2 linked regions of the Homo sapiens genome follow. The protein of the gene in region 2 interacts with the protein of the main gene of each other region in a pairwise test. Each region holds a gene or a part of one and is shown on either strand. Other genes may lie near its edges.

The links.
Region 1: the proteins of ZMAT1 (region 2) and QRICH1 interact in a two-hybrid assay, tested with the Homo sapiens proteins (one large-scale study listed by BioGRID).

Annotation. Positions count from the first base shown.
Region 1 is NC_000003.12:49,031,928-49,035,185, forward strand, and holds part of QRICH1 (transcriptional regulator QRICH1), read right to left. Parts: intron 1,302-3,258; coding exon 1,193-1,301; intron 847-1,192; coding exon 695-846; intron 347-694; coding exon 256-346; intron 1-255. UniProt on the Homo sapiens protein: Transcriptional regulator that acts as a mediator of the integrated stress response (ISR) through transcriptional control of protein homeostasis under conditions of ER stress.
Region 2 is NC_000023.11:101,922,025-101,925,850, reverse strand, and holds part of ZMAT1 (zinc finger matrin-type protein 1), read left to right. Parts: intron 1-3,826.

The sequences.
Region 1 (3,258 bases), on a different chromosome or scaffold from region 2:
CTGTACCTTCATACCCTTTTCATGAAAGGTGACTGTAGGGACCCGGGACCCCTTTTTCTATCAGTGCTAGGCACATCACACACCTTTGGAAAGCCAGAGCAAGGCTGCTTCTAAATTTAGCTTTCTGGAAGTGTTTTTACTTGGTTTGGGACTAGAGAATGCCTCTCCCCTATGATAAGTGATCACACAAGTGAGCATGCACACGCATACACACACATGCGCACACATGGACAGCAAGTCACAATAAAGCCTCACCATTTGAAGAGGTAGAAATCATAGAGCTTGATGGGACATCTCAATGGATTCTCTGGATTTTCCGTCTGTTCTGCATACATGTCATCTGTAACTATAAAACACACATCCCCACCACCACAGACCTGGCATCAGACTGCCTTACCTCAGGCCCAGATCAGGAAACTTAGGCTTTCAGCCAGCCCAACTAGGAAATACAGGGTCGGGGGAGGGAAGGTATGAGGCATGGGCAGTGACTACTAAGGGAAGAGGCAGCTATTCTGTCTGGGGCTTCTCTGCTTCTAGGAGGAAAGTTTGGAATTTTTGGCTGGGGAGAAGGGAGTGGAGAATTTTATCCAGCAAATCCCAACCTTTACACTTATCACTAGCCTCACAGGCACAAGGGCAGGACAGGGCAGGACAAGTAGCACCTGTTTTTGCCATCCCTGCCTCCTTTCCCTACCTTTCTGGCCAGTCTGGTGTATTCCAAGGGCCTTCAAGTACCGGATACTCGTGCTTTTATCCTTGGGATTAGAGGGGTTCTTCTTTGTCTGTCGCAAGACCTTGGAGAAGGCCAGCTTCATGTGCTGGTCCACTGTCTTCAATAGGAAGTACCTGGATCACAAGTAAAATGCAAGGCAGAGGGAGGGGTGCCGGGAGGATACCATGACTCATCCTCTGCCCACTGGTGCTTCAGAGGAGCCACTGCCCACATTCCCAAGATCTGGGCAGGCCCGTACCCAAGCAGTGTCCAGTGCAGGAACCACATCAAGATGGATGGTAGGGGTCTGGCAAGGGTGTTTGCCTCACTGGTTACCAAATAAAATGCAGCCAAGTGGGGTTAGGGCTTTCAGTAGCCCAGTTTCTCAAATATATGTCAGAGGAATTCAGAAGGCCTCTTGGATAGCTTCCACACTCTTCACTGGACAGATGCCAGCAGTGGAGCCTCTAGAACACTTACTTGGTATTAAAGAACATGAGGGTGGTCAGCAAGGTGGAGGGGGAGTGAGCCCCAAGCTGCTTGCACTCCCATAGCATCTCCTCAGTCACGTGGCTGGGCAAGACATAGCCTAGGAGGAATAGAGTACTGTCACAACAAGAGGATGGCAGGTGGTCTCTCAAAGGTACAATATGGGATGTGTGAAGCATAAGGACCACACAGGAGTATAAATTTCATCAGGGGACTCTCCCTAAAGTGTGGCAAAAATCATCTGGAAAGCTTCTTAAAACACAGATAGCTGGGTCCCAATCTGTTTCTGAGGTGGAACCTGATGATGAGCACTTCTAACACCACACTTGAGAACCACAGCCTTACATGATTGTTGTTACCCTCTAATCCAAGGCTAACACAGGGCAAAAAGACTGCCCTCAGAGACAGTGAAGTACAGAAAACTATAAACCAAACTCTGCATATATGCATAATTCTCTGAGAGTGTACAGAGCTTTGCATATTTTCAAAGGTGGTCCAGGACCCAAAGAACTGGCATGCACGCCCGTTTGCCCTTACCAAGTCTTCTCTCATCTCAACTGTCTCTAAAAAGCAAGGCCGGCCAGGCGCAGTGGCTGATGCCTGTAATCCCAGCACTTTGGAAGGCCGAGGCGGGTGGATCACGAGGTCAGGAGATTGAGACCATCCTGGCCAATATGGTGAAACCCCGTCTCTACTAAAAACACAAAAAATAGCCGGGTGTGGTGGCGGGCTCCTGTAGTCCCAGCTAATCGGGAGGCTGAGACAGGAGAATGGTGTGAACCCAGAAGGTGGAGCTTGCAGTGAGCCGAGATTGCACCACTGCACTCCAGCCTCGGCAACAGAGCGAGACTCCCATCTCAAAAACAAAAAAACAAAAAAACAAAAAAAACAAAAAAAACGGCTATTGTCATTTCTTCTCTAGATAAAGAGACTGATACTCTTTGGGGGATTTTATTATTATTATTATTATTATTATTATTAGCTAAGATACAGGGTCTCTTCTACAATATTTATCTTTTTTTAAAAAAGGAAGACCAGGCATGGTGGCTCACGCCTGTAATCCGAGAACTTTGGGAGGCGGAGGTGGGAGAATTGTTTGAGCCCAAGAGTTGAAGACCAGCCTGGGCAACATAGCCAGACCTCATCTCCACTGAAAATCAAAAAAATTAGTCGTGTGATGGTGCACATCTGTGATCCCAGCTACCAGGGAGGCTGAGGTGGGAGGATTCCTTGGGCCTGGGAGGTCAAGGCTGCAGTGAGCCGTGATCGCACCACTGTACTTAAGCCTGGGTGACAGAGTGAGATCCTGTCTCAAAAAAAAAAAAAAGGGAAAAAAAAGAGATGGGGTTTCGCTCTGTCACCCAAGCTAGAGTACAGTGACACAATCATGGCTAACTGCAGCCTTGAGCTCTTGGACTCAAAGACTCCTCCTGCCAGTTTCCTGAGCAGTTAGAAATACAGGCGTGAACCACCACGCCTAGCCAATATGCCAGTATTTGAACTATTACAAGATCCCCCCCACAGGGCTGGTGTTACTGTAAGACCCTGGTTCATAAGTGAGCCCAGAGCTAGGTACAGGCAAAGGTCAATAATTTGAATAAGAGCCCTGGTCAGCCAGGTCTGCACCAAAGAAAGATGACATTTGAATGACTACCAAGCCCCTTCATGTGCTGAAGTCAGTCAGTATGCACATGTTTGTGCACTGGGTGCATAATGAGATAGGAGCAGGCAACAGTATTCTCCTGCAGGGTTTCGGGATTCTCCAAGCAAGCACAGTGTGTGACACTTCCTGGAAGCAGAAAAAAGAACATTCTGCCCGATACACTCCTCTTCTGTGTTCTATGCTCTTGCCAAAACAAAGCTGGCTCTCTAATAGTGCATTTCCATCTCTTTAAGGCAGTTCTGACTCTATTTTTTGTCTACTTTTCGGCTATTTTGTGACCCAGTGGCAATGGGAAAAGCTTTTCTGCTCTTAGACATATCTGAAGCCCCCAAGATCCAGGATGAGCAGAAAACAGCCCTTCTCAGCAAAGAAGGATTCAAGGAATCCTCTCACC
Region 2 (3,826 bases):
AGGACAGGCTCCTCACCACAATCAGTTATCCAGCCCAAAGTGACAATAGTGCCGAGTTTCAGAAACCATGAACTAGATGACCTCTAAAATAACTCTGGTCTAAATAAAATGATTATGTATAATATTAAGTAAAAAATGCAAAGCTTCTGGATTAGTGAACAAGCATACTTTATCAAGTGCCTACATGTGTTGAACATTTTAAAAATTATTTCATTTAACATTCACCAAATCCTAGAATTAAAAATTACACATTGTATTTCTGTACCTTTTAGGTGAAATAAAAAACGGTCCATAGTGGTTACATAATTTGCTGAAGGCTATATAGTTGTGGGTAAAGATGGGATTTGAATCTGTTTGACCAACTCAGAATCTTATTTATTTTTTTCCAACATCCCAGTACTGTAGGTCATAGTTTTTCTCCCCATTACAAATTATTATGAAAGATTTATTTTCTTAGGTCATGAAAACATTTCTTGTAAGAGGGAAATGAAGAGGTAAAACACTCTTATTTATAGAAAATTGGAGTTTATTCATTTCTCCCACCAAATGCTGAAGCCACACTTAAATGTAATCAAATACATTACTGGAATATATGAGCTCTCTGATCAGATCCCATTTATAATTTGTCACAAAACTACCATTTCATTTCAAATAACCATCATAAATGTTATTCAGAAGTGGATTGTTTATGTCATGGTAGCAAAACAACCATCACTTGCTCATGCAGTTTCCTCTGAGCAGCAGGTTGACTCTGCAGGGCAGCTGTCCTTCATGCAGTGATTCAGATGCTTTTATCTTTTATTTTTTTCAATATTTTATTTTATGTTTTATTGTAAAATATGCACACCATAAACTTTGCCATTTTAAGTGTGAAATTCAGTGGCATTAACTACATTTACATTGCCAAGCAAGCTTCACCACTGTCCATCTCCAGAACTTTTTCATCATCCCAAATTGAAACTCTGTACGTATAGGTCATAGTTTTGTTATATGACCATATTTCTCCACTCTGAAGAACTTTCTGATGTATTTATGGAAAGTAATATATATTTAAAAGTCATGCTTAATTTGTTAACAGTTGGCAACTTGAATAGTTTCTTATTACCACAAAGCACAGCATTGCAAAGCAATTTTACCCTCTTATACCCTGAGTATAAATGGGACCATCTAGTAAACATTGGTCTTATCTTTTCCACATCTTATTATTTTTAAACCCTTACTTCATTATCAGATATAGGTTATCTTCCCATTTTGAACCTAGGTTTTGATAGTACTTTCTTATTCCCCATTGCTTTTGTTTCATGTTAAAATGGAAATAAATGATATCAGCATCAGAAATTCCTGTATATTTTAAAGATGGTATATTCCACTTCATACTTGAGAGCATGCCTTTGTGTCATTAAGATCTCAATACCAAGTTTCACTAAAGTAGGCTCCTTGGCCGGGCACGGTGGCTCACGCCTGTAATCCCAGCACTTTGGGAGGCCGAGATGAGTGGATCACCTGTGGTCAAGAGTTCGAGACCAGCCTGGCCAACATGGTGAAACCCCATCTCTACTAAAATTACAAAAATTAGCCGGGCACAGTGGTACATGCCTGTAATCCTGGCTACTTGGGAGGCTGAGGCAGGAGAATCACTTGAACTCGGGAGGCAGAGGTTGCAGTGAGCCAAGATCTCACCACTGCACTCCAGCCTGGGCAGCAGAGTGAGACTTCATCTCAAAAAACAAAAAAAAACTTGCTCCTCTATCCTTATCTCTTTTCCAAGTTTATAGTAGCATAAAAAAATTCAAATGTACCAGGGAATGAAGAACAGTTGAAAAATTCTAGGCTAGAAATATTGAAAAAATATGCCTAAAATTAACCAGGAAGTATTTACCATACCATTTTCAAAGACATGTATTTTTTCCAGATGAGACTTGAAATCATACTTCACAATATTTAGTATGTTGTCATTTGATATTCTAATGTGTAATCTGTTTATATTTTTAACCCTAGCTCTCCTAATTTCTTTCTTAATTAGATTGAAAGATAAAAGACCATCTGCCATGAATTTTGTACATTTATCATTGGGGAAAACTCAACTGTTGTACCTAAATCATAACCAAAATACTAATTTTGCAGAAAAATTTCTTTTTAACTCTAGTTGCAATTATTAAAATATTACACTTGGTAATAGAAATGCCTCATAGATCTTTACAAAGAGATATTTTGGAGAGAACCAGCTTTAGGGTTAGGACATAGACAAGAAAATAAAGATAATGGAAGATTAAGAGAAGAAATATTGGGACCCTTTGATTTTTTAGGCCCTTAAAGGTTTGTGTTAACTGTATAGCTGCTTAAAACTTTAAATCATCTTCTGTGCTTCGTATTTGGAAGCAGCTAGGTGTTTGGGTCCTCTGTAAGTACCCCACCAAAATTTTGCTTCCGTATATATTCCAATCTAAAATATATTTTTTCATTGATCACCATCAACCCATATAAAGTCAGGTAGAAACAGAAATCTGAAAGGCTGTGATATGTTCTTAGTCACACAGCTAGTTAATAGCAGGGTGAAAACTAATGCAGTCTCTCTCATCCTAATGCTTTTTACAACTCTTACTATTGGAATTAAGAATCAGTATAAACCCACACTTAACAACCAACCAATAAAAATAGATTTATTTCATATTCTAATCAGTTAAGGAAGAGAAAAGACATGGTGAGAGTATAAAGAAGAGAAGAGAGGAAGATGCCCCCAAGTTTCTTCAGCTATCCCTTGGTTCCCATTTCTACTAGAATCAGCTCCTAAGTCCCAATTCTATGCCAGAACAGTTTTATTCCTGGCAGGTAGTGAGTTCTCAGTAAGCATTAGTTCCTGTCCCAGTCATCTTCCTCACAGTCAACATTATCTGCTCACCTATCCTCTAATTGAACATCTGCTCCCTGAGGCTGGCCTTTCCTCTAAGCTGTCACCCTGAAACAGGCTGAAAGACATCTGTATTGTCACCAGTTTCCTCTCGACTTCCAGAATTGGCTATTGGTCATTTTTTTCTGGGAGTCCAAAAATCATGTCTCAAATAGTGGGGGTTGGGGGTCGGGTGGATCGAAAGAAACATTTAGCATCTCTTGTGAATCAGACATATGTTTCTTACATATGTCAAGCCTGGAGATCAAGTCTCTTTTTAAGATTAGCCTTGCCTGTAATCCCAGCACTTTGGGAGGCCAAGGCAGGCGGATCACCTGAGGTCAGAAGTTTAAGACCAGCCTGGCCAACATAATGAAATCCCGTCTCTACTAAAAATACAAAAATTAGTCGGGCATGGTGGTGCACGCCTGTAGTCCAGCTACTTGGGAGGCTGAGGCAGAAGAATCACTTGAACCCCGGAGGCAGAGGTTGCAGTGAGCCAAGATCACACCACTGCACTCCAGCCTGGATGACATAGCAAGATTCCATCTCAGGAAAAAAAAAAAAAGGCCTAGCCTTTCTAAGAGTGAGCTCAGGGAAATCTTGGGCAGACTTAGATTTGAATCCTGGCTTTGACACTTATCAACTGTGTGACTTTGGGCAAACTGTTTAACCTCTCCAAGTCTTAGGTATGACTTTTAGAAAGTGGACATCATCAAATTCATGTCAAATTTAGAGGAAATGCAACCTGAGGAGAATGTGGCAGTGTACAGTAGCCTCTGGAAAACAACACCCATTTTATAAATTTGTTCTCAGTGGAAACCCCTCTTCCATGAGCCTCCTGGTGGCAGATTCTAGAAGATCCAAAAAGATCTTGAAAGCCTGGAAATGGTTGTTTGACTCTAAGAAGGTGAAACTTAAAATAAAAAATATAAGTAT